4 linked regions of the Homo sapiens genome follow. The protein of the gene in region 1 interacts with the protein of each later gene in a pairwise test. Each region holds a gene or a part of one and is shown in the gene's direction. Other genes may lie near its edges. The genes, in order: PRMT3, BEND7, TSC22D2 and RASSF2.

The links.
Region 2: the proteins of PRMT3 (region 1) and BEND7 interact in binary tests that used the Homo sapiens proteins (3 or more experiments, as listed by UniProt).
Region 3: the proteins of PRMT3 (region 1) and TSC22D2 interact in a two-hybrid assay, tested with the Homo sapiens proteins (one study listed by BioGRID).
Region 4: the proteins of PRMT3 (region 1) and RASSF2 interact in a two-hybrid assay, tested with the Homo sapiens proteins (one large-scale study listed by BioGRID and IntAct).

What each region holds. Positions count from the first base shown.
Region 1 is NC_000011.10:20,486,167-20,493,769, forward strand, and holds part of PRMT3 (protein arginine N-methyltransferase 3), read left to right. Parts: intron 1-7,603. UniProt on the Homo sapiens protein: Protein-arginine N-methyltransferase that catalyzes both the monomethylation and asymmetric dimethylation of the guanidino nitrogens of arginine residues in target proteins, and therefore falls into the group of type I methyltransferases.
Region 2 is NC_000010.11:13,494,202-13,501,804, reverse strand, and holds part of BEND7 (BEN domain-containing protein 7), read left to right. Parts: intron 1-1,125; exon of another isoform or gene 1,126-1,295; intron 1,296-1,724; coding exon 1,725-2,027; coding exon of another isoform or gene 2,028-2,066; intron 2,067-4,916; coding exon 4,917-5,039; intron 5,040-7,603.
Region 3 is NC_000003.12:150,450,832-150,458,434, forward strand, and holds part of TSC22D2 (TSC22 domain family protein 2), read left to right. Parts: intron 1-6,244; coding exon 6,245-6,296; exon of another isoform or gene 6,297-6,301; intron 6,302-7,544; coding exon 7,545-7,603. UniProt on the Homo sapiens protein: Reduces the level of nuclear PKM isoform M2 which results in repression of cyclin CCND1 transcription and reduced cell growth.
Region 4 is NC_000020.11:4,792,698-4,800,300, reverse strand, and holds part of RASSF2 (ras association domain-containing protein 2), read left to right. Parts: intron 1-2,215; coding exon 2,216-2,291; intron 2,292-4,334; coding exon 4,335-4,486; intron 4,487-7,603. UniProt on the Homo sapiens protein: Potential tumor suppressor. Acts as a KRAS-specific effector protein. May promote apoptosis and cell cycle arrest. Stabilizes STK3/MST2 by protecting it from proteasomal degradation.

The sequences.
Region 1 (7,603 bases):
GACTGGGCAAGAAGAGAATGGATGGAAGATTTCTTTTGGGGGAAATGAAATGTTTTTAAAATTAGATTGTAATGATGGTTACACAACTCTGAGTATACTAAAGAATGTTGAATTGTACAATTTAAATGGGTAAATTTTTTGGTATGTGAATTATACCTCAGTTTAAATGAGGGAAGAGAAACCCACACCTAGACATATCCTAGTGAAACTACAGAAACCAAAGAAAAATCTCAAAGTTGGTGGAACTATGGTGCTGGAATTACCTTTAAAGAAGAGCTAAGTAGACTAGTAGATAATTTCTATAATTGGTAAATCTTCAAACTGAATACAGCTGTGAAACCCACACCCAGATGAAGAAACAAAACATCTCAGCACCCTAGTAGTCCCCTTTGTACACCTACCTAATACAGGGCATGTATGCCCTGTATTAGCCAGGTGCACAAGGAACAATGGAATTCGGGGAGCAGGGGAGAGGAACATTGTAATCAGAAGAAAAAAAGACAGAAGAAATTGTAATGATGACATTATCACTGTGCTGCCAGAAAATAACTGCCAACCCTGAGTTTAACCCAACTAAGATTTCTTCTAAGAATGAAGCTGGACAACTTGGCTGGGCACAGTGGCTCATGCCTGTAATCCCAGCACTTCGGCAGGGCGAAGCAGGCAGGTGGCTTGAGGTCAGGAGTTCAAGACCAGCCTGGCCAACACGGTGAAACCTCGTCTCTACTAAAATTACAAAGATTAGCCGGGCATCATGGCACACACCTCTAGTCCCAGCTACTCGGGAGGCTGAGGCAGGAGAATTGCTTGAACCCAGGAGGTGGAGGTTGCAGTGAACTGAGATTGCACCTCTACACTCCAACCTGGGCAATAGAGTGAGACTCCATCTCAAGAAAAAAAAAAAAGAAGAAGAAGAATGAAGCTGAAATAAAGATATTTTCAGATAAGCAGAAAAGAAGAGAAAGAATTTGCCTTAAAAACCTGTGCCAAAGGAAGTACCGAGGGATATTCAGGCAAACAGCAAATGATCCCTGATGGAAGGCCAGAAATTCAGGAAGGAATAAAGGTGAACAAAACTGGTAAATATTTACATACCAGTAGTTCTCTTAGGTATATACCCAATGGCCATGTTATGTATATTCACAAAAACCGTTCAAGTGCCTGTCAGCAGTAGACTAAATTATATAGTCACATATACCTTACGGCCATGAAAATGAATCATCTGCAGTAATGTAGATGAATTTCATAAACAATATTGAGGAAATTAGCCAGACACAAAGGACTGCCTGATGTATGATTCTTTATATATTGAAGTATAATAGGAAAAATGAATCTTTGCTTAAGAGTATTAGGATAGGTCGTTAGAGGCATAGGTGCATGAGGGGGACTACTAGGGTGCTGAGATGTTCTGTTTCTTCATCTGGGTGTGGGTTTCACAGCTGTATTCAGTTTGAAAATTCAGCATGATGTACACTTATGTGCACTTTTCTGAATGTACATTATAAAGCAGTTTCTAAAATGAAAAATCAGTAAATTTCAATGAATATGGGTTGTATAAAACAATTTTGTGTTTATAGCTAGGAAGAAATGTGAGGTATCAATTTATGAAATGTCAAAATGAAAGTATTCGTGTTACAGACTCTGAAGATGATTTTTGCCCCCTAAAACCACTTTAATAAGCAATTTTGAAATTACAAGGAAGCAATCCCAAATAAATTTAAAAGGAGTTTCAGTTATCTTGAAATATTCTATGTAGATCAGAAATAAATTACATTGTGTTTTTCAATAAAAGTATTTTTAAAAATATTTTTGGACTATTGCCTGTTTTACTACTTCCCATATTGCTTTGTCTATTTTTTACCACCACTCAATCTGGCAGTATCTCTTGAGACGTATATGGCACTTAATGTGTATTGTTCCCTAGAGGAGAATCATGAAAGAAAAGGTGCAGATTTTCTCTTGGGATACAATAGAAAATTAATTGAAAAAGAAAGAGTCCGTAATTTAATGTATAGTTACAATTGGGGAAAAAATCATAATATATAATTTTCATATTTGTTGATTATGTCTTCTTAAACGCCATTTATTACTAGCACAGTTCATGCTCTGTATGTGGCAGCTCGTATAGCTTATGTTTGTATTTTCATCTCCTTGGTTTATATATGATGATCTAAGCTATAACAGTCATTTTTATGGCATTGTCTGCTTACTCTTTCTTTGCTTGCTTCAGACTCATCAGTTGGCTTTTGCATTCCATATTGAGATTTTGAAAGAAATACTTCAACGAAAAATGAATTGTATTTTTGTTATAGTGATTCTGCTGCATGGATTACAAGCACTCTATCTCCATGCTTGGATAAACTCCATCAAAAGCACATTATCCTCCTACTTCTGTGGCCAGCTGCCTAATTGTATCTGCTGTAACCACATGCTGTTGGAACATGATACCAATGAAGAACAGAAATGATAAATTACTCCCTGCAGGTGATAGTGATAATGATAATTTTTAATTTCCTTCTTCCTCATAAGGTCTAGTCTGATCTTATTTCATTGGTTGCCATCCTATTACATACACACAATGTGTCCTCTTTAAAGAAATATTCATCACACTAAAATACCTGAGAAAGTCATTTTTTATCCCAAATCATTGTTCTTCAAATGAGTGTATATTAAATGAACTGCATTTACCTTTATACATATAAACAAAACATGGCTTAAAACAGATTTTTTCATGATTCAGTTTACAAATGCCATGAGTTTTCTTTTTGTGAAATCCACAAAAAGATGAGTTCTGAAACTATTACATGCTGAGGAATATTTAAGATGTACAACAGAGCTCCATGCTTGTATTTTCCTATGTGCATCAAAGTAATTGTCGAGGATTCTCACAAAATATCAAGAGTGATCAAGCTATCCCAGAAATTCACTATGTATACGTAGTTTCCTTTCATTCTGTTTTCTTCTATCATTGTTTTTGTTTTTTTACTACTTACCACTCATTCTCCCTTCTCTCACTCTAAGGGACTTTTATAACTAAACTTTTAGTTATAAATTTTTCTGACTGTGGTATAATTCAGTGAAATTTTATTTAACTGTGACCTTGCCTTTGCAGATTAACCCAACTCCTACAGATAGATTTTAATGCTTTTTTCCCCCTCAGCAGTTCTCATTGCCCCAACAAGATATATACGTGAGACAAAGGAGAAATTTCTTCTGCAGTCAGCCTTCAGACCTCTCTGATCTTTTACGAGCATATGTCAAGTTGTAGCTCCAGTTAGTTATTTGTTGCCATTGCCTATTAGTCATTATTTCCTATGGTTGTTTATTCTTATATTTGAATGACTTCCACAGAGATAATGTATATTCATTGAAATTAACATTTAAAAGATGTTAAGATAGCCTGTCAAAGTGATGGTAGCAAGGTGGCCAAACTGTAATTGAAAATAGTGGCATGTTTATATTTTCCTGACAAAATAAGTCATTTATTCCTAAATCAGCTGATATTTGGTTATATCATTATTCCTTATTTAATAGCTTTGCAGAAATAAAAACACTAATCATAATTCATTTGGTTTTATATTACTATGTTTCAAATTGAAGGGGTTTTTTTTTTTCTTAATCTCTTTTAATTAAGAGTTAGTAGCATGCAACTGTTGTCCCAGCTACTCAGGAGGCTTAGGCAGAAAGATCCCTTAAGCCCAGGAGTTTGATTTCAGTCTGGGCACCATAGCGGGACTCCATCTCTAAAATTAAATAAAAATTTTTAAAAATAAGAATCACACAGAAAAGAAAAGAAAAAAAGGTAACACCACAAACCCTGTCTCTTTAAGGGGCATTCTAGATCATGTTGGTGTTTGAGGGTAGACACCCATTTTAAAACCAGAAACTCCCTTTGTTTTTTTCAGAGCAGCAATCTTCCACTTTCTCAACTGTACGAATGCTGTCTAGTGAGTAGATAGATTATCTGCACACAGTTTGAATTTTAGGTGAATTCCTTCCTAACTTCTCCTCATGCTTCTGCTTTCTGTTTAATGTGTGCTGTGGAACTGAGTATTACTGTAAACCAAACCTCATTAGAAATGTGACTGTGCTTGAAGACTCAAAGATACTGTGAGGCATTTCACATAGATGCAATTTCAGATATTTGTCATAGATTCTTTCCAGTGCTTACAACTGAAGTTAACTATATCTGTCATTTTTCTTTGTCTTAAAACTTATTTTTTGGTTACCCAGAACTTCCCAGTATTTCTTTCACTATATTATTAAGGGCTGGAAATTTTTAACTGAAATTCATACACAGATTTGGAGATTGATTAATAAGCATGTGTGGCTGGACGTGGTGGCTCACACCTGTAATCCCAGTGCTTTGGGAGGCCCCCCAAAAAATGTGGGGAAAAATAAATCCTAGTAAGCTAATAAGAGCTTTTGTGAAAATTTGGGTTTAAAAGCAGCTTTTGTGACATCTTCAGATACATGAAGAGAAGCATTTCTAATTCTGATTAAAAAAAGACTGGCAATAAATATAACAGTTATAGAAGTATAATTACAGAAAGATGAGAGGCTGTTACATGAGTTTAAAACAATTTTAAAAGGTACACTAAAAATTTTGAAAACAAAAGGATGTTTTAGAACTATGGGTTTTCTGTTCTTGTTGTTCCAGTTTACCTTCTGAAGAACTTCTTTTAAAATGTTTCTAGAGGAAGTCTATTGGCAATGAATTTCTTTACTTTTCCTTGACTTGAAAATGCCTTCATTCATTCTGTCTAGATATAGAATTTTAAAACTTTTTTTTCTCCATCAGTGTCTTTTTCTTTTCCATCTGGACCACCAATGACACGTTAGATCTATAGGTCTCCAAGGTTCTATAACATGCATTTTAATTGCTGTCTTTTTCCCTTCTTCAAATTGGATAATTTCTATCAATCTTCAAATTCACTGATTTTTTCCCTGTCATCTCCATTCTGCTATTCAACCCGGAAGTTTCAGTTATTATAATTTTCAATTGAAAATTTTTCATTTGGTGCTTTTTTATGGTTTCTCTGCTGAGAATTTCTGTCTTTTGATTCATTCCATTGTGTTTTCTGTCACCGTTGGAACATGGTTATAATTGCTGCTTTAAAGTTTTGCTTGATAGTTTGAGCATCTGGATTATCTCAGAGGTGGCTTGTCTTTTCTCCTGAGAGTTGTTCAATTTTCCTGATTCTTTGTATGTTGAGTAATTTGAGATTGCACCTTAGATGTTGTGCATGCTATGTTGTGTAAACTGTGTGTCTTGTTAAAATCTTAAGGATGTTGATGTTTGTTGTTAGCAGTCAAGCCCAGTTAAAATCAGACCATAAGTTCTGTCTTAGTGTCCGAGCAGACAGTTGACCAAGTCTCAGTCACATTCTCTAAGCCTTTGTTATGCTGTTTTGAGGCTGTCTTACACATACCTAGTTTACGGATTAGTCTGAGACTTTTACAGATTTTTCCAATCTCACGTCAGTTCTCTAGGCCTTTACTTGTTGGTTTCGGTTTTTTTTCCATGCATGTTTTATCCAGAGGTTAATCCTGAGACTTGCAGCAGTGATTCAAATTTTAGTTCAATGCTCTAAGCTTTTGCTGTGTGGGTTTGGATCTCACCTGAAAATGCGTAATTTGGGGGTTAGGCTGAGACTTCTGCATTTCCTACATACAGAATTAGATCTTTTCTAGCTCTCTCCTCTCCATATTTGTCCCACATGTTCCATGCTTTTCAGAGTTAAAAATTATTAGTTCCATTCAAGTTCAGTTAGTCAATGCTTTAATAAAGTATACTGACTATGTAATAAAGCTAGCCATATTTGAGACTGAAGACTAAAAATTTTAATTTGGCTAAAATTTATTGAGAACCTACTATATAACATTGTATTGGGTAAGGGGCATAGAAGTGAGTTATACATATGCCTTGCTCTTAAATAAATTGCAGTATAAGGCAAACTGTAATATACTATCGTAACTAACATAACAGAATGTATAATAAACACATTTGCTCATCAAATATTGTATTGTATTGTATCCTATGGGCCAGGTTACTGCTCTGGGCACTGAGAGTATAGTGGTGAACAAGACAGGCATACAGGAATAAATAAGAAAACAGTTGAATTGGTCTGTGAAGGGGTATCATAAGTATCTGGAAATCAACTGATAAAGTTATATTTAGAAATATTCTAATTAACCACGTGGTTTTTATGATAATCTGTGGCTGAGTACTACATTGTTTTATAATTCTATTTGGCAGAATTATTACTAGTATTTTGATTCTCTCTTGGTATCTAAATTGCAGTGAACCTCAGGGTTAAATATTGAGTTTGGTTTGGACCTAATCCATATTAACCCTACCAGATCAATAAAATGTCACATTTTTAACAAAAGTAGCAGAGTACACAAATTAGCTTTACCATGATTTTTCAAAAAATCAGTGTCCTGTTTTTTACACTTTCTAAGCTTAATGTAATGCCAGCTTTAAAAAGTGATTAAGTCCAGCTAGTTCCAATAGTGAAAGAAAATGGAATGGTATTTAAATTTAACCAAAAAACTCAAAATTATGTATTTATCTGAGTATGTTAATTTCTTTAAGAGATCTTTTGTAGGCTGGGTGCAGTGGCTCACACCTCTAATCCTAGCACTTTGGGAAGCCGAAGTGGGTGAGTCGCAAGGTCAGGAGTTCGAGACCAGCCTGACCAACATGGTGAAACCCCATCTCTACTAAAAATATAAAAATTAGCCGGGTGTGGTGGCGCACGCCTGTAGTCCCATCTACTCAGCCTTGCCTGACCAACACGGTGAAACCCCGTCTCTACTAAAAATATAAAAGCCAGGTGTGGTGGCGCACGCCTGTGGTCCCATCTACTCAGGAGGCTGAGGCAGGAGAATCGCTTGAACCCAGGAGGCGGAGGTTGCAATGAGCTGAGATCCCTCTGGGCAACAGAGCAAGACTCCATGTCAAAAAAAAAAAAATCTTTTTGTACTATCACAATAACCCTTAGAGCTCACTTTGGAGTTTCTCCTTTGAGTACTTGCTTAAACATAAGATTTGAGTACTACTGTTCATTTTTTCAGGAAAAAAAAAATAAGTAACATTTTAAAAATCTTTATTTCATCACAAAAATATTCATAGTACTTAAAAACAGATATACTGGACTAGAAGAAATTAAATGAACTGGCTTTGTATAAATAGGATGTTTTAATTATTTATTGCTATGTAATAGCCCATCTCAGAACTCTGGCTTGAAGCCCAAACCATTTTTATCTGTTTGTTTCCGATTCTGCAATCCTGACTGGACTTAACTGAGTAGTGCACTTGCTGGTCCTTCCTGGCATCTTTCATGCCGCTGCAGTTGTCTGAACACTTGACTACAGCTGGAGAAGTCAAGATAGCCTAATGCGTGGGTGGACATCTCAGTTGGCGAGTGAGGATCAGTGAGGGGCCAGCTGAGTCTCTCTCTCCATGTGTGTTCACCTTTCAGTGGTCTAGCATGATTATTTCTCTAATAAAATGTACTAATTATTTGATTAGCCTTATTACCTTTATTATGTTGTTTCTGTGAGGAAAAGCCAAATTACATTACTTCGTTTTTACTTA
Region 2 (7,603 bases), on another chromosome or scaffold:
GCACAATCTCGGCTCGCTGCAACCTCTGCCTCCGGGGCTCAAGCAGTCCTTCCACCTCAGCCTCCAAGTAGCTGGGACCACAGGCACACACCACCATGCTGGGCTAACTTTTGTACTTTTTGTAGAGACGGGGTTTCTCCATATTGCCCAGGCTGGTCGCAAACTCCTGAGCTCAAATGACCCTCCCATCTCAGCCTCCCGAAGGGCTGGGATTACACGTGTGAGCCACCATGCCCAACAGTGGCCTAAGATTTTATCTTTTGGGTTTGAGAAAAAAAAATTCATTTCTCTTCATCTTTATGAAGATACTGGCTGATGCACAGTTTAAGAAGATAGTGTGTTTGAAATAGCTCCTAACAGATATCAGCATCCTCTGATATTATTATTGATAGAAAATATTTTCTTTTTCTTTTTTTTTTTTTTTTTTTTTGAGATGGAGTTTCACTCTTGTTGCCTAGGCTGGAATGCAATGGTGCCATCTTGGCTCACCACAACTTCTACCTCCTGGGTGAGCCGGGTTCTCCTGGCTCAGCCTTGTGAGTAGCTGGGATTACAGGCATGTGCCACCACGCCTGGCTAATTTTGTATTTTCAGTAGAGACAGGGTTTCTCCATGTTGGTCAGGCTGGTCTCGAACTCCCGACCTCAGGTGATCTACCCGCCTCGGCCTCCCAAAGTGCTGGGATTACAGGCGTGAGCCACTGTGCCCGGCCAAAAAGATTTTCTATCTGTGCAATATTACAGACATCTTTAATATTTATTAAGTACTCCCAGTGCAGTATAGAAGTTCTTTCATTTTAAAAAAATGTCCTGAGACGGGAGAAAAATCTTAAAAAAAGAAGTCAGTGTAGGTGAAGTGGGATTTCAAAGTGGCCTGTGACCTTTCGCACACAGTTACGCTGCAGGGGAGGTGGCAGTGCGTTTGGCATGGGAGGAGGGCACGGTGGGGAGGTTGCACTTCCGCCCTTCCAGTGCTGGTACCGCCAGTGACCTCGAGTGGCAGGGACCCCTCGGTCATCACCAGGCTGATGTGATGGGAGTCAGAGTGCCAGAAAGACAAAACCCCCTCGCTTGCCATGCTGCCACACTCGGCGCCTCTCTGTCTCCTCGGCCGTCCTCTCTGAAGGTGATGTCTCCAGCGGCAGCGTGTCATCCTGGAGGACATTGTGTCAGCAGTGAAGCCCTGCATCCCTGCCAGTCATCCTGAAGGACATTGTGTCAGTAGTGAAGCCCTGCGTCCCTGCCAGTCCAGGCTTTCTTCCTTGTCCTTGCCCCGCCTGGTGAAGCTGACAGACAGTGAGCAGAGCGCTTTAGTGACCTGCCCATTCCTCACGGGTGGCTGTGGCCCATCAGAGCAGAGGGGTTCCGCGGTCCAGTTCTATCCTTGACCTTCTGTCTCAGCCTGTTTCCTCATCACCTACTCATTCAGAAAATGCTTCCAAAGAGGGAATGTCATGTTTGTTCCTGATGACACACTCTCAAGAAACCTCTTTCATCATAAGCGACTTGCAGAAAGAGATTAAAATGAGAGGCACCAGGAATAGGATGGGTTTTTTCAGACCGTAGTCAGTTTTCCTGCCTTTGCGTTTTACAGATTAAGTTCATAGAGTCAGTCATCTTTCCCATTTCCAAAGAAGGGTTGTTTTTCTTTCTCTTCTTTTTGGTTAGTGAACTGTTTTCTCTTTCACTAATTTAGAGTGCTAACTTTGGCCCTGTTTCCATTAGGAGATGAAAGCATGGAAATAAAAAAGCAAATTACAGGGATGAGAAGATTGCTGAACGACAGCACTGGGCGGATCTATCAGCGAGTTGGCAAAGAAGGAGAGAAACTAAAAGAAGAGCCCCAGGACCTGGATTTAGTCTGGCCTCCACGTTTGAACTCCTCTGCTGAGGCCCCGCAAAGCCTCCACCCGTCTTCACGTGGTGTGTGGAATGAGCTACCGCCCCAGAGTGGACAGTTCTCAGGGCAGTATGGCACCCGTTCTAGAACCTTCCAAAGCCAGCCCCACCCTACCACGAGCTCCAATGGTATGGTTGTCAACAAACATTCAGAAGGCTCTCATGGGGGTTTGTACTGTTCTATTTCTAAATATTCAGTGTGTTGAGTTCAATTTATTAAACCCTCCCATAATTACCTGCCTTTGCTGAGTTACTTTAAAAGACAGGGAGACACAAAGGAAAGAGTTGAAGACTATTAAAAAACAGAATTGAGAATTAGGAAAGACAGGGGGTTCTATGTTATAAGTGAAGATTTCCTGGTAGAGATTTTAGCCCTTTAAGAGGTTAAAGCGATCATTTTGTGCCCATGTATGGATATTATTGTCACAAAAAAAACCTGAACATTAGGGCAGAAAGAGCTCCCCACTGTCTTTAAAAGAAGCTTCCTGGTCCTATGGTGTGTTACTAACATATCCTCTTGGTTACTCCTTCACCTTACTCATTATCAGAAGAGTCCCAGATAAAGGCGGGGGCGGACAGGGGTGGGGGGCCGATAACCCAGCATCCCACGTCAGTACTGAACCCAGTGATCCATATTTTGTAACATGCTTCATTAGCAATGGAAAGTATTCCTTTAAAGTAAAATTTTCTTAATTTAAGTTTCCTAATTGTTAAGAAAAGAATCAAATGACAATTTTTTTTCAAAGCTTAAGGAGAAAAACCTGATGCTTTTTGTGGTCATATTAGTTTTCTATCCGGCCACACTGGATGCTATAATATTTGTTCTATAAACTCTGTAGAGATGTGCAGATCTATAGTTTTCACAAAGAGAACAAGAAAAAGGTAAGAAAGCATTTTCAGTTTCCTTAAGAAGTTAAGGATTTTTTTCCATTCATTTTCATTTCACAATATCCTTCAAGAAAAAGAGAACTGTTTTGACTTTTTTTAAAAACACAATTTGTGGTTCAGAGGCATGAAAAGCCATCCTGAGACATTGATGAGACAGCGAAGGACCCCAGAAATGTATGGGTGTCTTCTCTGCCTCTCAGTAGTACATAAGCCAGTATCAAAGTTCCAATGCTGGCATGCCTCCAGGTTAGAGGGACACAGCTCTTTAAAGACTCCTCCATAAAAATAAAAAGTCAGTTCTCTTTAAAATTAGAAAATGATTTATAACAAGCTGAAAAGGGTTGGTTTTGTCTTCTAAAAATGATAAAAGATGGTACTTAGAATAGTGACTAGAAATATTCTTTAAGACCTTTCTAACTCTACTACCATGGAAGAGACAATAAGAGAAATAAAATACCCTTAGGTATGTATGAAGTTAATAAACCCCACATCAGTAAGTTTTGGGTGAACAGTGTTCTGTTTCCCAGTATACAGTAGGGACAGTGGATTTACTTTGAAAAGTATGAAGTTAGTAAAAGTTACAAACATAAATTCCCCCATATCAGTTTGAAAATAGATATTTTATGTTTTCAATAGAAATATGGCTAGGCGTGGTGGCTCGTGCCTGTAGTCCTAACGCTTTGGGAGGCCGAGATGAGTGGATTGCTTGAGGCCAGGAGTTCGAGACCAGCCTGGCCAACATGGCGAAACCCCATCACTACTAAAAAATACAAAAATTAGCCGGGCGTGGTAGCGCATGCATGTAGTCCCAGCTACTTGGGGGGCTGAGGCATGAGAAGCGCTTGAGCCTGGGAGGCAGGGGTTGCAGTGAACCAAGATCATACCAGTGCACTCCAGCCTGTGCAGCAGAGCGAGACCCTGTCTCAAAAAAAAAAAAAAAAAAAAAAGAAAAAGAAATATATTACATATAACTGTGACTACTTTGGTATTTCATTGGGATTATTTATAATTTTAAAGTTGTAACATTACAATTTTGCTACAATTTTGAATGTAAATAATTGTACCACTACAATCACTAAGTTATCCTGAAGTATTTCATGGTTTTGCTCTGGTGAATTTTTCTATAGTATTCCTAAATAATGCATATTACAGGATTTAAGGTATATAAAGTATAATAAAACATATAATTGGAACAAAACCATGGAACTTACCTTGCTGGCCTGTGAGACAATGTGAGCGCTGGAAGTCTCTAAACTGCTCCATTTTATGGTGGTCAGGTGAACAGGTGCTGGAGGGAACCCACTGTAAGAGCAATGTCCAAATGTCCCATTTTATTCTAAGGACAATAGAAGATACTTGCTTACCTATGAGAGAAACAGAATAAGATAGGTTTACCAAGGAAAAGGCATTAAATTTAAACAGTGCAAAAGAGGCTGTGGCAAGGGAAAGATAAGACATGGGAATGGAGAAAAGAGGTAGAGAGATTTTCTTTGTGAAGCTGAAGAAAAGCCAGCCAGCCCACCAATACCCTCGAACGCATCCAATTCGAATATATCCTCCCATCCCTGCTCCTCTGTGCTTCCCCACCCCAAACGCCACACCCAGAGAGTATTCTAAAAGTTTTCATGTGTGCACAGTTCTTTGTTTTTGAAATAATGTGCTTAATATCAAAACTATTTTCAATAGAACTCATATAATTTTTAATATGAACTCTTAAACACAGCTACCAAATTTTTTTTGCAAGGCTGTCCTCAGGGCTCCTTTTTTGTGTGAACTAGCATGAGTGTGTTTCGAGTGAGTTTTTGAGGTGTTGTTATTTGAGATGAACAGCTCTGACAATAGGGAGGCCTGCTGTGCCCACTCATTGTGTGTGTGTGTGCATGCGGGCTCCCGCACCGCGCCACAGCACGCACGTTACAGTATGGAAGCCTGGATAATTAGATAAAGTCAGACCCCCAGATTTAGGTTGTGATAATTAGTGGGTACGTTTTCCTTAGGCACAGCTTCATCATAATTGCACATGCTTCAAAATCCTGCCAAGATACTTTCTTTTTTCTCTCCACCTCTTTATGATTTTTTTTTTTTTTTTTGGTTTGTTTGGAGTATGTCATTCTTTTCTTTCATGCTCAGGAGAACTTCCAGTGGTGAATTCATCAGCTGGATCAAACTGCTGTACTTGTAACTGCCAGTCAACGTTGCAGGCCATTCTACAAGAACTCAAGACCATGAGGAAATTAATGCAAATTCAAGCAGGTACAAGGATCAGGCCTCGGAATGAGTCCTTTGATTTTTAATGCATATCTGACATCTTCCGTTGGAATGTTCATTGTGCTTTTATTAAAGCCTTCTTCTCACCTTGCTGTCTTGCTGTGCCTTTTCAAGTATCTGTTTTTTCAGCTTTCTCTACAATCCATTTTTCCTTTAGCAAATCAAACATATTTTGTCTTGCTACTGATACAGCTCATATAATTATGTGTATGTACTCGATAGACTTCATTCCATGATCTCCTAGTACTTCACAAATGTCAGTTAATTAAATTTGGGAACAACTGTGTATGGAGGGGTCCTTTAGGAAGCATGGGCTTCAGTGTTCAAGCACTAAGCAGATAAGAAATGTGGAGCCCCAGGCTATGCTTTGTGGCTTTTCTCTCTCCTATTCAGGATGCGGAAGCTCAGAAATCCGCCGTGTTCTGTCGTCTTTGTTTATGTGACTCCTTTTTGTTTTCACTGCCATCAGGCAAGTTGAGGGACGGAAGAGCAGTGGATTTGTAATTTGGGATTGGATGCCAATTTCTGCTTTTGGAGCTGTGTGGCGCATCTGAGCTTCCTATTTCACGTCTGTAAATGGAGAATTCATATCTAACTCACAGGGCTGTTGTCAAAATAGAATGATGTAGTAGCTGTCAATGAACTTTATAAGGCATGGTACAAGCCTAAGCTGTTTCATTAGTGTGGTCTTAAAGTCCATGAAGCGTTCTATAGAAGTCTGGAAGTCTACGTCTTCATTATAGCAGCTGTATTTTCTGATCTTCACAATTGAGGGAAAACAGAATTGTTTTTGTCACAGGTACAAGAAATAAATCATTGTATTAAGTTTTCCCTCTTGTCAAGGGACATCACCACTTGATCTAAGCCATGTCGTGACTGGCTTTCCTGCCCTTTCATCAGGATGGTAGTCCGGAAGGTCGTCACTCAGAAGCTGTTCAGGATGCCATTTAGTGAATTCTAGTATAATTTTAATATTCAGTGATGTGGTTTTGATATAAAAAGCTTAATTAATACTTAGATATATCAGTCACCCAAGATCACATTAAAGTAATGTGAGCTACTTTCTGAAAAACAGCATCTTTTTATTTGAGATGGAGTTTCACTCTTGTTGCCCAGGCTGGAGTGCAATGGCATGATCTCGGCTCACCGAAACCTCTACCTCCCAGGTTCAAGCGATTCTCCTGCCTCAGCCTCCCTAGTAGCTGGGATTACAGGCATGTGCCACCACGCCTGGCTAATTTTTGTATTTTTAGTAGAGATGGGGTTTCTCCATGTTGGTCAGGCTGGTCTCAAACTCCCGACCTCAGGTGATCTGCCCGCCTCAGCCTCCCAAAGTGCTGGGATTACAGGCGTGAGCCACCGCGCCGGGCTAAACAGCATCTTTTTAAGCACTGAATTTGGTTTTACCCCAAGGAAGTATTTTGCTCAGGTCAGTAAGCATTGGACTCACCTTGTTCCACTACGATAATCTGTGTTCTTATTAACCTGGAGGAGGTTAACATCTCCTAAATAAGGAGCTCAGAAAGAAAGGTTACTTTATGATGTTCGGATTCTTTTCTCCGAGGAGGAATTTGTTAGCACTTAAGAAAATATGCATATGAAATTGTAATGATTTGTTTTGTCACTTAAGCTCCTTACTACTGAAATGGCAAACTACAAATTGCAACCATTTAAATCCTTGACGGAAGCCTTTTTAGAATCTATTAAGTAAATGCCACTTTGTCGCTATGTTTTCTTTTCTGAACCTTTGCAGATTAGGGAGGTAAACGATTCCAAAGCTGTAGGATGGCACAAAGGATAAACTGAATAAATTACTCTCCTTTAATTTTCTTAAACTTAAAAATTTGTGTCATGTGGGTAGATTTACTTAAGGTTTAATGCCTGAAGACTTAGATTTAAATTACATTTAGAAAGTTTCACCTTTCTTTTAAGAAGACAGGGAATAAGACCTAGAGGTAAGATCTGGATGCCAGAGACTTGGGCTGTGTCTAGATTTGCAAAAGGAGAAGAAAAACTCAGATAGTCCCCGTGTTCCTTAAACCAAAACATTTTCATTTCTAATTGAGAATCATGAGGCTTAGCAAGGCCTGGGGCCTAGACCATCGTGATCATTATTCGAGGTCCCTTTGATTCTGAGGGTGCAGACCCAGCCTTGAGGGGGAATGCAGAGAGACCAAAGAGAAGTTCCCAACTCTGGCTGCACAGCAGAATCACTGGAAGAGCTTTCAGACAATGCTGTTTCCCAGGCAGCATGCCTGGAGGTGTCAGTTCACTTCGTCTGGGGTGGGGCTGAGGCATTTCAGTTTTTTTGTTTGTTTGTTTTTGTTTTTGTTTTGAGACATAGTCTCACTCTGTCGCCAGGCTGGAGTGCAGTGGCGTAATCTCGGCTCACTGCAACCTCCGCCTCCTGGGTTCAAGTGATTCTCCTGCCTCAGCCTCTCAAGTAGCTGGGACTACAGGTGCCCACCACCATGCCCAGCTAATTTTTGTATTTTTAGTAGAGACGGGGTTTCACCATGTTGGCCAGGATGGTCTCGATCTCTTGACCT
Region 3 (7,603 bases), on another chromosome or scaffold:
ATAAAACATGCATTTGTTAGAGAATAGGCAAAATGTTACCCAGGTTAGAATTAATGCATTTTAGTAGTAATGATGTTATTACAGTGCTTATTTTGGGAGATGGGAGTGGGTGGAATAAAAGTTATAGATGATTTACTGGAAACAGTGTATGATTCCTTAGGACTGCCCCCAAAGAAAGGTATAGCTTCCTTCTACTTGTGAGTTTCTGAAGAATCAGTTTTAGTTGGTTTGGGCAAGGGGGTGTGAGCATGAAGTATGCCAAATTTACCAACTTAAAGGAGTTTGTATTACAAAAGATTTGATTGTGTAATTTGGAGAGTTCCTGTAGTGCATTTATAGTTGTGATTGTAACTCAATGCAAAGTTAGAGGAGTCTTTGAGTAAAGCAAGGCATTTATTTTATTTATTTATTTTTTGCAGTATTTTAATTAAAGATACATAAAATTTTTAAGGCATCTTCAGCTTTCTAACAAACCAGAAGAACATTTTCGTTCTTAGCAATTAGGTAAACTGTATCAGCTATAAAAAGATCACTAAGCAAGTGCCTTTTCTAAGAGGTTCCCTCCCTTATTCTCAGAGCTGAACCTCTTCTAGGAATTTGCCAGATAAGATAAATGGCATATTCTGAGCATGGTTTAATCTTTGGATCCATGCTTATGGTTTCACAACTTAACATTTGGTACTTAGTTAAAGCACTCTTAATAATACACATAATTCTGGATTTATTTCAGGTCATTAGAGATTATTTTTTCACAGTCTTAGTATTATGGAAGAAAATATGTGTGTTTTGACATTAGGTCCAGGTTTGAATCCTGTTCCTAGTATTGTGTCTTTGAGCAAGTTACTTGACCTCACTTTCCTCAACTGTAAAATGAGAATGTTGCTCAGGCTTATTGTAAGGACTCATTAAGATAAAGGTGTGCCTGCCCTAAAATAGACAACCATTAAGTGTTCTTTTCCTCTATCTTGTTGATTTGTTAATTAGCATTTATATCTAGGGAAAGACAAAGTAGTCAAAATATGTCCATTTTGAAAAAGAGAAGTAGTTCTCTTATTTTTTTTAGAGACAGATCTGGCTCTGTCACCCAGGCTGGAGTGCAGTAATGAACCCTGAGCTCCTGGGCTCAAGCAGTCTTCCCACACAGCCTCCTGAGTAACTAGGACCGTGGGCTTGCTTTCTTTTCTCTTTTCTTTCTTTTCTTTCATGGGTTCTCACTATGTTGCCCAGGCTGAATTTTTTTATTTTAAATAAGTAGTCACCATGTCTCTGTCCACATTACTACAGATAAAGAAAAAAGTTGGTTTCTCATAGTTTTTTAAAAATAGAGATCAAGGCTGGGCGTGGTGGCTCACGCCTGTAATCCCAGCACTTTGGGAGGCGAAGGCAGGCAGATCATCTGAGGTCGGGAGTTCGAGACCAGCCTGACCAACATAGAGAAACCCCGTCTCCACTAAAAATACAAAATTAGCAGGGCATGGTGGCACATACCTGTAATCCCAGCTACTCGGGAGGCCGAGGCAGGAGACTCGCTTGAACCCGGGAGGAAGAAGTTGCGGTGAGCTGAGATCGCGCCATTTCACCCCAGCCTGGGCAACGAGAGTGAAACTCTGTCTCAAAAAAAAAAAAGAGAGAGAGATTAAATTAGATTACCTTTTTCTTTAGTGATTTTAACTTGTGACAGAGTTGGAAATTCTTCATCCATCCTCTTGCTTTCTCAGTAATGTTGCAAGTAATCTCATGGTAAGAGTAAGGAAACCTAGGAGGAAAAGCTGTGGTGGAGAGCCAGTTAGGATCAATTAAAAGATGAACAGCATGGAAAGCCAACCTGCCTTACTGTAGCATTGATACTCTGAGTTATACTTTTTCTGTGAGTGTAAGTATAATTAGCTTTAAACACTGAATTCAAGCTCATTTAGTTATTTTGGAGCAGCAATTCCAGTAAATAAATATTTTCTTGTAGGTCTTTCTTACTTTCCACAGCTCTATATTTCTGTTCATTCTCTCCATATCCACAATTTTTAATGCATCTGTAAATGCTAATAAATGTTTGATTTTTATTCTAAGAATGATTCATAGTAAATAGAAAGTTTATTTTTAAAAATTATCTTTTGACTTTATTTAGCATTTCCAGTTTACCATAATAGTTTAAAAAAGAAAATTCTGAACTCATTTTTCCCTCATGCTTCTGTAGCAGTAATTGTAACACTTGATTTAAAATTGACTTATTTCAGTTTGAGTATGTATCTATACATACACACTAATCTGAAATATTTATACTACCACCATTGTAGGGTACCGGGTATATATACTTTGTGCTGGAAGTAAAGACAGGAAGCCTTTTCTTAGGGAGCTTAAGTTTGGAAACTGGTTAAACCATCAAAATATAATGTGCTGAATATAATAATTAAAAAGAAAACAAGGTATATAGTATTATAACATTAGGTGAAGGAAGGAAATTATTGATTCTGCTTCAGTTGATCTTTCTCATTTTAAAAGAGTCAAATCTCACTATGATAACTTTGAACATAATAGAAAACATCTTGATACCCTCATTGAAACAGTATTTTTAAACCATATTCTGGGATCTTGAAATAAAATAGTCTCTTATTTGCTTAAGACTACCATATTGGTATCTCCATCGTAAATATGGCTAAAGCAGTGGTTCTCATACTTTAGTTTCTATCTGAATCGCCTAGAGAGTTTGTTAAAATAGATTACGGGGCCCCGCCCCAAGAGTAAATCTGGGGTGGGTCCAAATATTTACATTTCTAACAAGGTCTTGGTGGGTCCAAATATTTACATTTCTGACAAGTTTCCAGGTGATGCTGATGATTCTGGTTCAGGGACTACACTTTGAGAACTGATTTATCTGAACTCAAAAAATTTTAATGCCTTCCTCATATGAACCATTAATTGTTTCAAATCTATCATATCTAATTACTATCAGTATGCATTGAGTTACTATGTGCTAAGCACTGAATTCACTTATTCACAAAGATGAAGAAGTTATGGAACCTTTCTCAAAGAGCTCAATCTAATAGGATCAACAGTGGTAGTATTACAATACTCAAAGTAATCACTGTCTGTATTGAGTGCTCAGTGTGCCAAGTACTATGCATTATGTAAACTCATTTAATCCTCACAATTGGCATATAATCCTTATTTTAAATGAAAAAACTGAGGTCTAGAAAGGTTAAATAATTTCCCAGAATTCATATAGTGAGTATATGGAGGAGCCAGAATTTGCTATTCTGCCTTTTTGCACTATAAAAAGTTTGCGAAGATTGGTAGACCCCAGAAAGGATGGAGTAATTGGCTCTACCTTAGAAAATCAAACAGCATCACAGAAGAGATGGCACTGGAGCATCTTAAGGGACAGGTCTAAGATAGCCAGATGAATTGGAACTGTGAGCATTTCCAGCTGAGGGAGCAGTTTCTGCAAAGCCAAGGAAACCCGAGAGAACATATGTTCCACAGACTACAAATAGTTGTATAAGACCATAACACAATAGGCAGATGGAGTATAAGAGGAAAACAGACTGTATAAGGCAGAGGTCAAAGTCATAAAGAATTTTATATGCCAGGCTAAAAAGTTTTAAAAATAGAATTAGGCTTCTTAATTTTTCCTCCTATAACTTTCATTTGTAAGCCAGCAGTTCTCAAAGCATAGTCAGACAGTAGATTCCACATCATCTGGGAACTTGTTAGAAATGCAGATTCCTGGTTCCATGCCTACTGAATCAGAAACTCTGAGTGGGGGAGCCCAGCAACCTGAGTTTTAACAAGACCTCCAGATGATTCTGGTGCATGCTAAAGTTTGAGACCCCTGCAGTAGGTTATAGAATTCTTGAATAATAGCCTTCAAGATAGTTAAAGGTCACTATAGTGGTAGTAATTATATTTGACACTGATTTATTCTATTAGAGTACAACACCTAACAGTTGAAATATTAACACCATTTAAGGGATACATCTTCATCATGATCTATTTATACCTTGCAAACCTGTTTCTTCTGTTGTCATAAAAGAGATCTTAGGACAAGAGTTTGTTAGGTCAGCATTCAAAGAATAGCATGCTAACTATTCTTCCTTAGCTATGGGAATCATTCTAAAACTCGCTGACTGATTTTAATTATCAAAAAAAAACCCCAGTAATTTTTGTTTTTTTTACTGCTTGTTAATACATAAAACTGATGTTGTAGTTAGTATTTAAGGTGTGCTATTTAAACCAAATGTGTTGAAGGAATCAAATGATTTAAGTCATGACATGACTTAAAAGTAATTCAATCTTTCCTTGTCATGTCAATAAAAATATAGAAAGTATAATCTGGGATTCCCAAGCAAACTAATTTAAATGCCTGTCACCGTCTTTTTTGCCAAAATGTGTTCAGTATTTGTGGTGAATATGTCTGCATGGTATCTGGCACTGAAGTATATACTAAAGCGTTATGGTTGACTTAGTGGTTCTGTAGTTTATAGTTACATATAGTCATACTTTGCACAGCTCACTAAAAGCATTTAAAGCCCAGCACATATAAAGTATTTGTTAATGATCCATAAATCCTTTCTAGATATTAGATATACAAAACCTCTTTTCATCTTAGAAATAGTAGCAGCAAGAAGTGAAGGTAGTATGCTGTAATTAATGTGGTTAATGCTCAAATAAACAAACGTAGTTTCCCATGTAATGATTCAAGATTTCAAGGATTTAGAAGTGGAAAGTCCATTGAGGCATTGACATCAACCCCTTGTTTTACAGATGGGGAAACTCAGATCCAGGGAAGTTAAATAGGTGATTTGCTGATGTCCCATAGGAAGTGAATAGCAGGATATCACAGGACAGGATATTTCTGAGCCTCAATCTGATACAACATTATGGGTCCACACCATCTAAAGTAAAGTAGTTTCCAGGTATTTTAGCACTAAAATCTTAGGTGGAGTATACTTTATGAAGAATATTTAGTAACATATAAAAAATTATCTTTTCGTATTGATACAATAAGCTACAGTATCAGATTTTTCTTTACAAGAGTAATTTTTAAAAACCTAATAACTGTTTTTAGAAATAAAATTCATTAAAAAACAATAAAAGGGTATAAATTCCAGCTATTCTTACTACTTAATACATGGTAGAATATAAACCACCAAAGAGGACAATTAGCCTTCTGTGTTATTATCATACAATTGCTAAGGTGATATTTGAACTTGGAATGTGCTTACAGGCTGGATAACTTTTCAGTTATTCCCAAGAAGAACTGATCTAAACCACACATACCTTATAGGTGATTTTTGCCAGCAAGTAACCTACAGTCAAATACATGTAGGTCTGCCAGAATGTTGTTTCTTTTTGTTTTTTTTTTTTTTGTTTTTTTTTGAGATGGAGTTTTGCTCTTGTTGCCCAGGCTGGATTGCAATGGCGTGATCTCGGCTCACTGCAGCCTCTGCCTCCTGGGTTCAAGTGATTCTCTTGCCTCAGCCTCCTGAGTAGCTGATTACAGGCACCCGCCCCAAGCCTGGCTAATTTTTTTTGTATTTTTAGTAGAGATGGGTTTTCACCACGTTGGCCAGGCTGATCTGGAACTCCTGACCTCAAGTGATCCACCTTCCTTGGCCTCCCAAAGTGCTGGGATTACAAGCGTGAGCCACCACGCCCGGCTGAATGTTGAGTTTCTTGTTAACCAATCCTACCCAAAGACTTTCTGAACCATTTTTAGAAGCCATTAAGTTTTTTTTAAAAAACTAGATGTTAAAGTATAAAACTTATACCAGAAAAGTCTTACTAAGAGGAGGGACTAGAAAAAAAAAAGTCAAGCCATCATCTGAATTTTACTACAATAAGTAATTATTGGAATTTCTACATGAAAGGCAATTAGAATGTATAGTTGGTTAATGTAGAAATTTAAGAGATACGGAGAAGACACTGCCCATTTAAAATGTATCCTTTTAAAACCACTGAACAGAGAAATTCTTAATACAATTGAGAGTTAGTTTTAAAGTAGCATACATGTATTACAGGCAAATTAGAAATGTTGGCACTACAAAGGACCTGTAGAAATCATCTATTTACTGAGACTTTCATTTTAGAAATGAGAGCTTTGAGTACTGAAATTGTCAGAACAGAATAAGCTATTTTAAATTACTGTATATTTGGTTTTAAGTGAAACACAAATGTCTTTTACATTCTTTTAAGAGTTGGAAGGGAGGTTAAATTTTTTAGAATAATAACATATTCTAATTTTTTCCAGTGCATCTGGGGGAGGTGTTGTAGCCATTGACAACAAAATAGAACAAGCAATGGTAAGTAAAAGTTTACAGTTCTCCCATTTCATAGATTGTTGGTTGTATGGAACACTTAGCTTTTGTCAGTTTTAGAAAACAAATAAGTTATTTAAACCAAAGATGACCAAATCATGTTTTTTGATAATGAGATTTAGTTGAAGATGCTAGAACGTTGAGAACTTTTAGTCTAGAAATACTATTTAAGTAGATATTTCTTCCATTTGAATATCTCACATTTCATGCATTATCATTGATAAGGGCCATTGGTGAGGGGGCATACATATTTAAAGACAATATGTTCCCCAGATATTTCAGCATTGAAAATACTTTAGAGTGAAAAAGAGTATTAAAGCAAAAACAGCTGGAGGTCTGATTGAAGTAGACTGTAAGTAAGCTATAAGTAGGCCAGGCACAGTGGATTGTGTCTGTAATCCCAGCACCTGAGCTGAGGTGGGAGGATCACTTGAGGCCAGGAGTTTGAGACCAACTTGGGCAACATAGCAAGACCCCGTCTCTACAAAAAAAGTTGGTATTTTTGTTTGTTTTGAGATAGTCTCGCTCTGTCACCCAGGCTGAAGTACAGTGGCATGATTTTGGGTCACTGCAACCTCCACCTCCCAGGTTCAAGTGATTCTCCTGCCTCAGTCTCCTGAGTAGTTGGGAGCACAGGCACACACCACCACATCTGGCTAATTTTTGTATTCTTAGTAGAGACGGGGTTTCACCATGTTGGCCAAGGTGGTCTCAAACTCCTGACCTCAGGTGATCTACACGCCTCAGCCTCCCAAAGTGCTGGGATTACCGGTGTGAGACCTTACAGGACTGTTAGTCTCAAACTATTTTTTTAAAAATACCAAAATTTTAAAGTCCAAAATTACAGATCACTTTAAAGCAGTACTATGACTAGTTTAACATCAAACAGCTTTCCGTTGGAATATTGTTCCTTTGTTCTCTTTATCTACCATTTTAAGCATGTGATTTTAAACTTTTTTTTTTTTTAATTCTAAGCTTAGTTGACAATTTAAGAAGCTAGTATTTTTTGGAAATCGTCCCAAACTTTGAAAAGAAAATTCTGGGCTTACTGCTCTGGTTGGGAACTGGATTTTTTCCAACCCATCTTCCATAGGCTCGGTCAAGATAAAGCAGAAACATTAAAAGCAAGAGCAGGAAAACTAGTATAAAAACTTAGCACCAAGTAGGCCAGAACCAGATAGCACCACCTTTATCTTTTCACTCTTTTGACATTCCTAATTTTGTTTTTCACAGGATCTGGTGAAAAGCCATTTGATGTATGCAGTAAGAGAAGAAGTGGAAGTTTTAAAGGA
Region 4 (7,603 bases), on another chromosome or scaffold:
GTAGTGTGTCCCTCGGCTGCTCTGGGTCTGGCTAATGCCCTCTGAATAGAAGGGGACAATTTAATTGCTTTCTGTGCACTAAAGTCTCTTGAGCTCAGGCTTTTTGCTAATGTGACTGGGCTTGAGCCAAAATAGACCCTTGAATTGGAAGTTCCAGCATAAGATTTCTCTATCTCTTTTTTTTTTTTTTAGAAGGACTCTCCCTCTGTCACCTAGGCTGGAGTGCAGTGGCGTGATCTCAGTTCATGGCAACCTCTGCCTCCTGGGTTCAAGTGATTCTCCTGCCTCAACCTCCCAGGTAGCTGGGATTACAGGCATGCGCCACCACACCCAGCTAATTTTTTAATTTTTAGTAGAGGTGGGCTTTCACCATGTTGGTCGGGCTGGTCTTGAACACCTGACCTCAGGTGATCCACCCGCCTTGGCCTCCCAAAGTGCTGGGATTACAGGCGTGAGCCACCACACCCAGCTGGGATTTCTCTATCTTAACGAAATATTTAATTTATCTGGGACTAAATTGTTGGAAGTCCTTAGGCACACTTGACACATGTTTTGTGACATCTGACCATTCTTATCTCTTTGTGGACAGATTTCCCCAGGGACTTCTACCAACCAATGATTTTCTCTCCCGGTTTCAGATCTGTGTGTTCAAAAGTACCAAACGGCCTTTTGTCTTAGGTGATTTCGAATCACATTTTCCACAAATTTATTTCAGCTTGCATAGAATCATGCTGCTTTATCTAGGTTTAACTTGTCAGGATTTTCTTGGCATTTCCAGTGGGTCTTGACTCCTGGCGTGGTCCAAAATCTCTCCACTGAATGGCTGGGTTCAGAGAGGCTGAACTCTGCCACCTCTTACTTGAGACTAGACAAAAGCGCACAGTGGCCCCCTCCACCTCTCGCCCCTCTCATCCCACCTGGAGTGCAAAACATGCACTTTCAGATGAAACTTGACTTGTGCATTCTCAGGGTTGATGAGGGATTTCCCTGATCACAAAGGGGGTGAAATCTCCTCTCTGGCCACGTGCAGTAGAGCTGTACTCCCAGTGCAGCCACTTGGAAAACTTGGTGGCTAAGGAGGTCCAGTGCTGGGCTTCAGAGGGGGAGTTTCTAAGGGTTTTTATTTTTTAATTTTTAGAACTGAAAAAGTATTGCCAGGGCCCAGAAGCCACCTCATGCCCACTTCTTGTCACTACTCCCCAAGGTGAACCACTATCCTGAATTCTAACACTCCATTTTGAACTTTCTGTCAATGGAATATGATCTGTGCTTTTTTGTGAAAGAAGCTAGACACAAGAAAAGCACATATCCTATAATTCCCATGAGTCACACACATGCGTGTAGTTGTGTAGTTCATTCACATTCTCTTCGCTGATAATTTTCCGTTGTGTGGCTATTGCTTCCTTTATGCACCCATTCTGATGCTGATGGGAGTTTGCAAGTTTTTTTTTTTTTGTTTGTTTGTTTGTTTTTTTGAGATGGAGTCTCAGTCTTTTGCCCAGGCTGGAGTGCAGTGGCGCGATCTCAGCTCACTGCAACCTCTGCCTCTGAGGTTTGGGTGATTCTCCTGCCTCAGCCTCCTGAGTAGCTGGGAATACAGGTGTGCACCACCACGCCTGGCTAATTTTTTGTATTTTTGTTAGAGATGGGGTTTCACCATGTTGGCCAGGCTGGTCTCAAACTCCTGACCTTAAGTGATCCGCTGGTCTTGGCCTCCCAAAGTACTGGGATTACAGGCATGAGCCACTGCGCGCAGCCAGCTTCTGAGTCTTGTGAAGGCCTATCATTATTGTCCTTTCCTCACTCACAGCGTGCTTGAGGGAGAAAAGGCCACAGCCATGCAGGAGAATCGCTGTGTGTGGGCTCTGAAGTGCTCGCCTCAGTGAATCCATGGCTTATTAACACCTGCTCATTCAGCTTGAGTTTGGGAGTATTGTCGGTAGACGAGGCCTGCCTTGGTGTCCTGGAGTTGCTCCTTACTTTAAGCATTGTTCTGGGGTGGTGCTCACTCTTGACTTTGATCCTGGGGGAAGATGGTTATGGGGTGGTGGTGGCAGAACTCTGTGTGCATGTGCATGTGTGTGTATGTACATGTGGACAGTTACCCAAAGTGGGGTGACTGAAGGCCAGGTGAGAGGTGAGAGAAAGAGGGAACAACTGCATTATAAGTGGCTTCAGCTGATAATGTTATATCTCTTCTATTTTTCCCCCTAAGAAATGAACTTCTCTTGCATCTGAAGACCTACAACTTGTACTATGAAGGCCAGAATTTACAGCTCCGGCACCGGGAGGTAAGGAGTCCCCAGGGACGGCCCTGATTGGCTAGTCCAGGGCTTGTCACCATGTGTCCTGGGTCTGAAGGTCCCTGAGGTCCCAAGAGAACCCTGCCTCTCCTGCTTCTTATTTAGGTTGCTAGTGAGAGTCCTTGGGGTTCTTTGGAAGAAGACTCCAGGCCCAGTTTTGTTCCAAAAAGGATGAATGTTTCAGAGATGTGTTCCAGAGACATTCCTGTAGAAATGTGGCAGGGCTAGCCCAGTCTCATGGGGGAGATTCTCCAGAGGGAGCTTTCATGAAATGACCTTTCCAGGTGGCTCCCAAGCAGACGTTCTCTCGTTGGGCAATTCGGGAACCCCACCCAGTCCTCTGTGTTTAAACATTTGGGCCCAAGTCCTATCACTGCAGTGACCTGGGCAAAGCACATAAGCTCTGGATGTTAGCAGAGTCCCCACTGATAGTGGGCCCGTCCCCACACTTGGTCATCCTAGGTTGCTTTTGTTACTCATCTGATTCCCATCCTGAAACTGAGCTTACTCATCCTGTATCCATTTCTCTAAAGCCTGTTATCAGATAGATGATGAGTTATAAAGGAGTCTGGTAGGGTACTTTATACTCAAGCGCCTGTGACTGATAAAAAGGTCCCTATGTGTAATGCCCTTTGAAACACATTTTCAGGTTATCAAGCTGTGGCGATTTAACCATAGAAACAGATAACAGATGGTGGAATTTCAGCTGCTAGGGCAGGTTGCTTGGGGACAGTATGTGGGATGTAGTGGCCTATTCTGTGTCCCTCAAACCACTCCACTTAGACAAAATCCTGTTTTGGGTTAAATTTTGACCTACAATTGTGTAAAGGAATGATGCCCACCTTGACCAGGGGAAGGCCATGTAAATTGCCTATGTTTACATAAAGCCTTCCTCCCTGAGACGCCTAAGCACCGTAAAATTGTTTCATTTCTCTCCTTCCCTCTTTTATTCCTTCCTCCCTCTTTGAGGATGATTTTGGGGCCCAAGTTAGTTAGTTGCTCAATGGGCTGATGTTATTTTCACCTATGGGGCTTGTCCTGAAGATGTGTTCCATGACCCAGATCTAACACTTGAATAGCCCATAAAACATGGCTCCAAAAAGGTTTTTCTGAGACTAGAGGGAGGAGAACCGATTCTTTTAGGAACTGCCCTTCAAGCTTTTACTAATCAGCAGCTGGGCCATGCAAGATTTTAGTTCTTAAATAGCTTTCCTGGGTTATGTCCTATAGAATAAATGATTAAAAGTGCTTCATGATTAAAGGATTTCATAGTCATAAGCGAGTCCCAATTCTTCGGGATAGAACATATAAATGCCTCTAGAATGGTTTTACATTTAATGTCTAATTAGTCAGCAACCTTTGAGTATAAATTGGGGACTCCTGCAAGATTTATTCACCTGTTGGAGAGTTGTCATTTAGCCCGTTAGTTTATTACAGAACCTGGGACATTCTGCTGTTTGGAAATCTGATTAGCACAGCCTCTCCCAGCTCATGATCACTTGACACCCTTTTAAAGACAGCAGTTCATCTGCTAGAGGAGCTAGTGTTCTGTAGAATAAACTTCGGCAAATGTTGCTTTAAATTTCCTTCAACCACCAGGTTGGATTGCTAAACAGATGTTGTAGCTAAAGAGACATCATTTTCCGTAGTAGGGGATGGGACGTAGCTAACTCCAGTTCTTGCTTCTGTTAACAAGGCTAATCTCACTTATTTTAAGAAATGTATTCCGCTTTCTTTAAAAGTCATTAGGATAAAAAGAAAAACAATGCTTTTTATAATTTATACCTATGTATTTGAATTTCACAGCAACTTTTGTGCTGACCTGTGAGGTCAGCTTCAGGATCTGGAGTAGTTGACGTCAGAAAGTATCTCAGAGCTGCGGTGTGAACTGGGCAGCTGCCCCTATCCTGTGAATACAGTCTGGGGGCCCCCAGCCAGGACATGTGAAGAATGTGTCATTTGTCCCTCAGCATGGTCTTGGCTTCTGTGGGGGCTTTTCTAGGCTCACTACTCTGATTGCTTTGTGGGCAGGAAGAAGACGAGTTCATTGTGGAGGGGCTCCTGAACATCTCCTGGGGCCTGCGCCGGCCCATTCGCCTGCAGATGCAGGATGACAACGAACGCATTCGACCCCCTCCATCCTCCTCCTCCTGGCACTCTGGCTGTAACCTGGGGGCTCAGGGGTGAGTGAGGAGAGACGGGGCAGGGAGATGACTGGGATGCTTGGGTGTTCTATGTGTTCTCAAGCAGATAAATGCTGCCTTCTTCCAGCCAGCCCTGACCCTGGCTCCTCCTCCTACTACCTCTACTGCCCACCTGCCTTAGCCTTGGAATGAGGAACAAGCAGCAGATGTGGTTGTGATTGAGCCCCCTTCCTGTCACTGCAATCACTGATGAGGTCACAGGAGGGGAGCTGCTGAGTCATACGAGGGGAGCTGCTGAGTCAGAGTCCTCCCTTAGGGAGAACTCAGGAGTCTCTGAGTGGAGCTGCTAGTGGCTAGTGAGGCCCAGCCTGTATATTTCTAACAGGGCGCCCCATGCCCCAGCACCCTCCCCACTGGGACCACTCCTCATAGAATAGCCCCACTCCAAAGCATTTATGACTTGAACCTTCTGACCAAAGCTCTCTGAATCTTGGGGGAACCTAGAAGAGGAAAAGGAATGTCAGGCTCTGTCAGAGTCAGCCAAGCGAGATCAGCCAGGGGTCTGCTCCCTGCAGACCATACGGGGAGCCAGGGTTTGGTGAGATGGTGGTAGTCTAAGTTCCCACCAGAAGGGCTGGGAAGACCTAGTCCATCCCTCCTTATCCTCCATGGCTGAATAAGCCGCCAAATGCGCCGCCAAATGCCTCTAGCAAGGCATGCCCTCTTTATTGTCTTTCTGGGACTTGAGTTTTAGGATCAAGTGACTAGCCTGTCTCCATCCTGAAACCTGCTGATGCTGACTGCCTTCGGCCCCAGCCTGGGTGGAGTGTGCTCGCCTCTCAGCCAAAACCACAGTGACCTTTTTTTCTGGTTTAAATGAAAACCAAGCCCTCTCTGTTGGCCACATTGAACATTTTGCTAAACTCCACAGCCAAATCTATGTTTCTCTACAATTGAGAGAAACCTACTATGTGGCCAGCCCTGGGGCTGGTCTGGTTTCTTTCCAAGGGGATTTAAGGAGGAAAATTGTTGCCCACCCCATAGGTGCTAGGATGTCTGGTTAAGGTTCTTTGGTTTCATCTAACTTTGCAGGTTTCATGCTCTGCTTTTCAGCACTATCACCATATTTTTGTTTTGTTTTGTTTGAGACAAGGTCTCACTCTGTTTCCCAGGCTGGAGTGCGGTGGCTTAATCACAGCTTACTGCAGCCTCAACCTCCTAGGCTCAAGTGATCCTCCCAACTCAGACTCCCCAGCAGCTGGGACTATAGGTGCACACCGCCCCACCCCGACCTTTTTTTTTTCTGTTGCCCAGGCTGGAGTGCAGTGATGCGATCTCGGCTCACTGCAACCTCTGCCTCTCGGGTTCAAGCGATTCGTGCCTCAGCCTCCTGAGTAGCTGGGATTACAGGTGCCCACCACCAAACCCAGCCATTTTTGTATTTTTTGGTAGAGAGGGGGTTTCATCATGTTGGCCAGGCTGGTCTTGAACTCATGACCTCAAGATATCCACCTTCCTTGACCTCCCAAAGTTCCGGGACCACAGGGGTGAGCCACCATACTGGCCCTACCTGGATAATTTTCATGTTTTTTGTAGAAATGGGGTCTCACTATGTTGCACAGGTTGGTCTCAAACTCCTGGCCTCAGGCAATCCTCCCACCTTGACTTCCCAACGTGCTGGGATTACAGGTGTGAGCCACCATGCCCAGCTGTACTTGTTACACTGTACTGTATTTGTTATACTATACTGTATTTGTTATACTATACTGTATTATTGCTGTATTTGACTGCCAATGGCCAAGCCCATTTCACAGCCTGACCCTGACCCCCAGACTATTCTATTCCCTAAGTGAGATGATTTTTAAGATTTCGTTTGAGCCTGTGGCCTTTGGTTTGGGCTGCTAAAGGGTCCTTCGGTCCGCCTGCTTCTTCTCCCTTCTCTGCGGCATCAAGCTGGTCCTGGCTGACTCTGCAAAATACTTTGGTAGAATTTTCAGGAATGGTAAATGGTGTCATTTAGATGTCAGCTATAATACAGTGAATGCCTAGACTGCTGTCTTAAGAAGGATCCTGAGGCTGTGCGTGGTGGATCGTGCCTATAATCCCAGCACTTCGGGAGGCTGAGGCGGGTGATCACTTGAGCTCAGGAATTCAAGACCAGCCTGGGCAACATGGTGAAACCCTGTCTCTACAAAAAAATAAAATAAAAAAAAAAAATAAGGATGCTGAGACCGGTTCCTGCTTCAGCAAGAATGAAGGCTTTAAATCAGGGAGTGGGAGTCGCTGCTCTGGGTGCCAAGTGTTCACCATTCCCCAGAAGCTCTGACCAGGTCCATTCTGTGGTTCAGAAGTATATGAGTTAAATTACAATAGGAAGTTCTTTCAGATTTTCCATTTTAATTGTCCTTCCTTAAAACGATCCTCCCCAGAACATGAGGTTTATCTCTACTGGGTCCCAGGGAGCCCATGCTCTTCTCACCATGGGTTGTTCCTAATTGGTCAAATATGATTCTCCTTTCTAGCCAAATCCTCTGTTGATTTTGGATGTTTTTCTGAGCTGCTCCCTTTGTCCTTTTTGGCTTTGAGAAGTTATTTGCCAGTTATGATGGCAAACCAGGGTCTCAGCTTGGACTGCCTGCTTGTAACCCTTTCTTCAGCTTGGATGAGGACTCCATCCTTGCAACGCTGAGAACACTGTCAGTGTCCCTTCCAAAGCTGCCCCTGCCCTTGTTGTGGCCAACTTATTACTTTCCATTCCTTTTGAATGCCAGAAGCAATTATGAGTTATTTCTTCAACAGCAATGAGTCTAAACTGGAATCTTACCCTGCAAAACGAATGGCCACTATTAGAGTTTTCCAAGTAAGCCATAGAATCCATACATGCTTAGAAGCAGTGCAGGCAACACGTGGGTTTTGTTCCTTGGTATTATCCATCCTGGGCTTGATGAATTGGTTGGGTGTGTTACTGCAGTTGCTGCAAAAGAACATCTTCTCCCTCCGGAACTCCCCCTGCCCCACCCACTGCTTGACCTGGGAGCTGGGCCAGCCTTTCACGGGATGCTCCGCGCAGCCCATCTGCACCCTTCATCACCTGATGTGTGCCAGTACCCAGCCTGGCACTAGCAAAGTGCTCCCCTTTCAGGAGTGGGGTCCAGC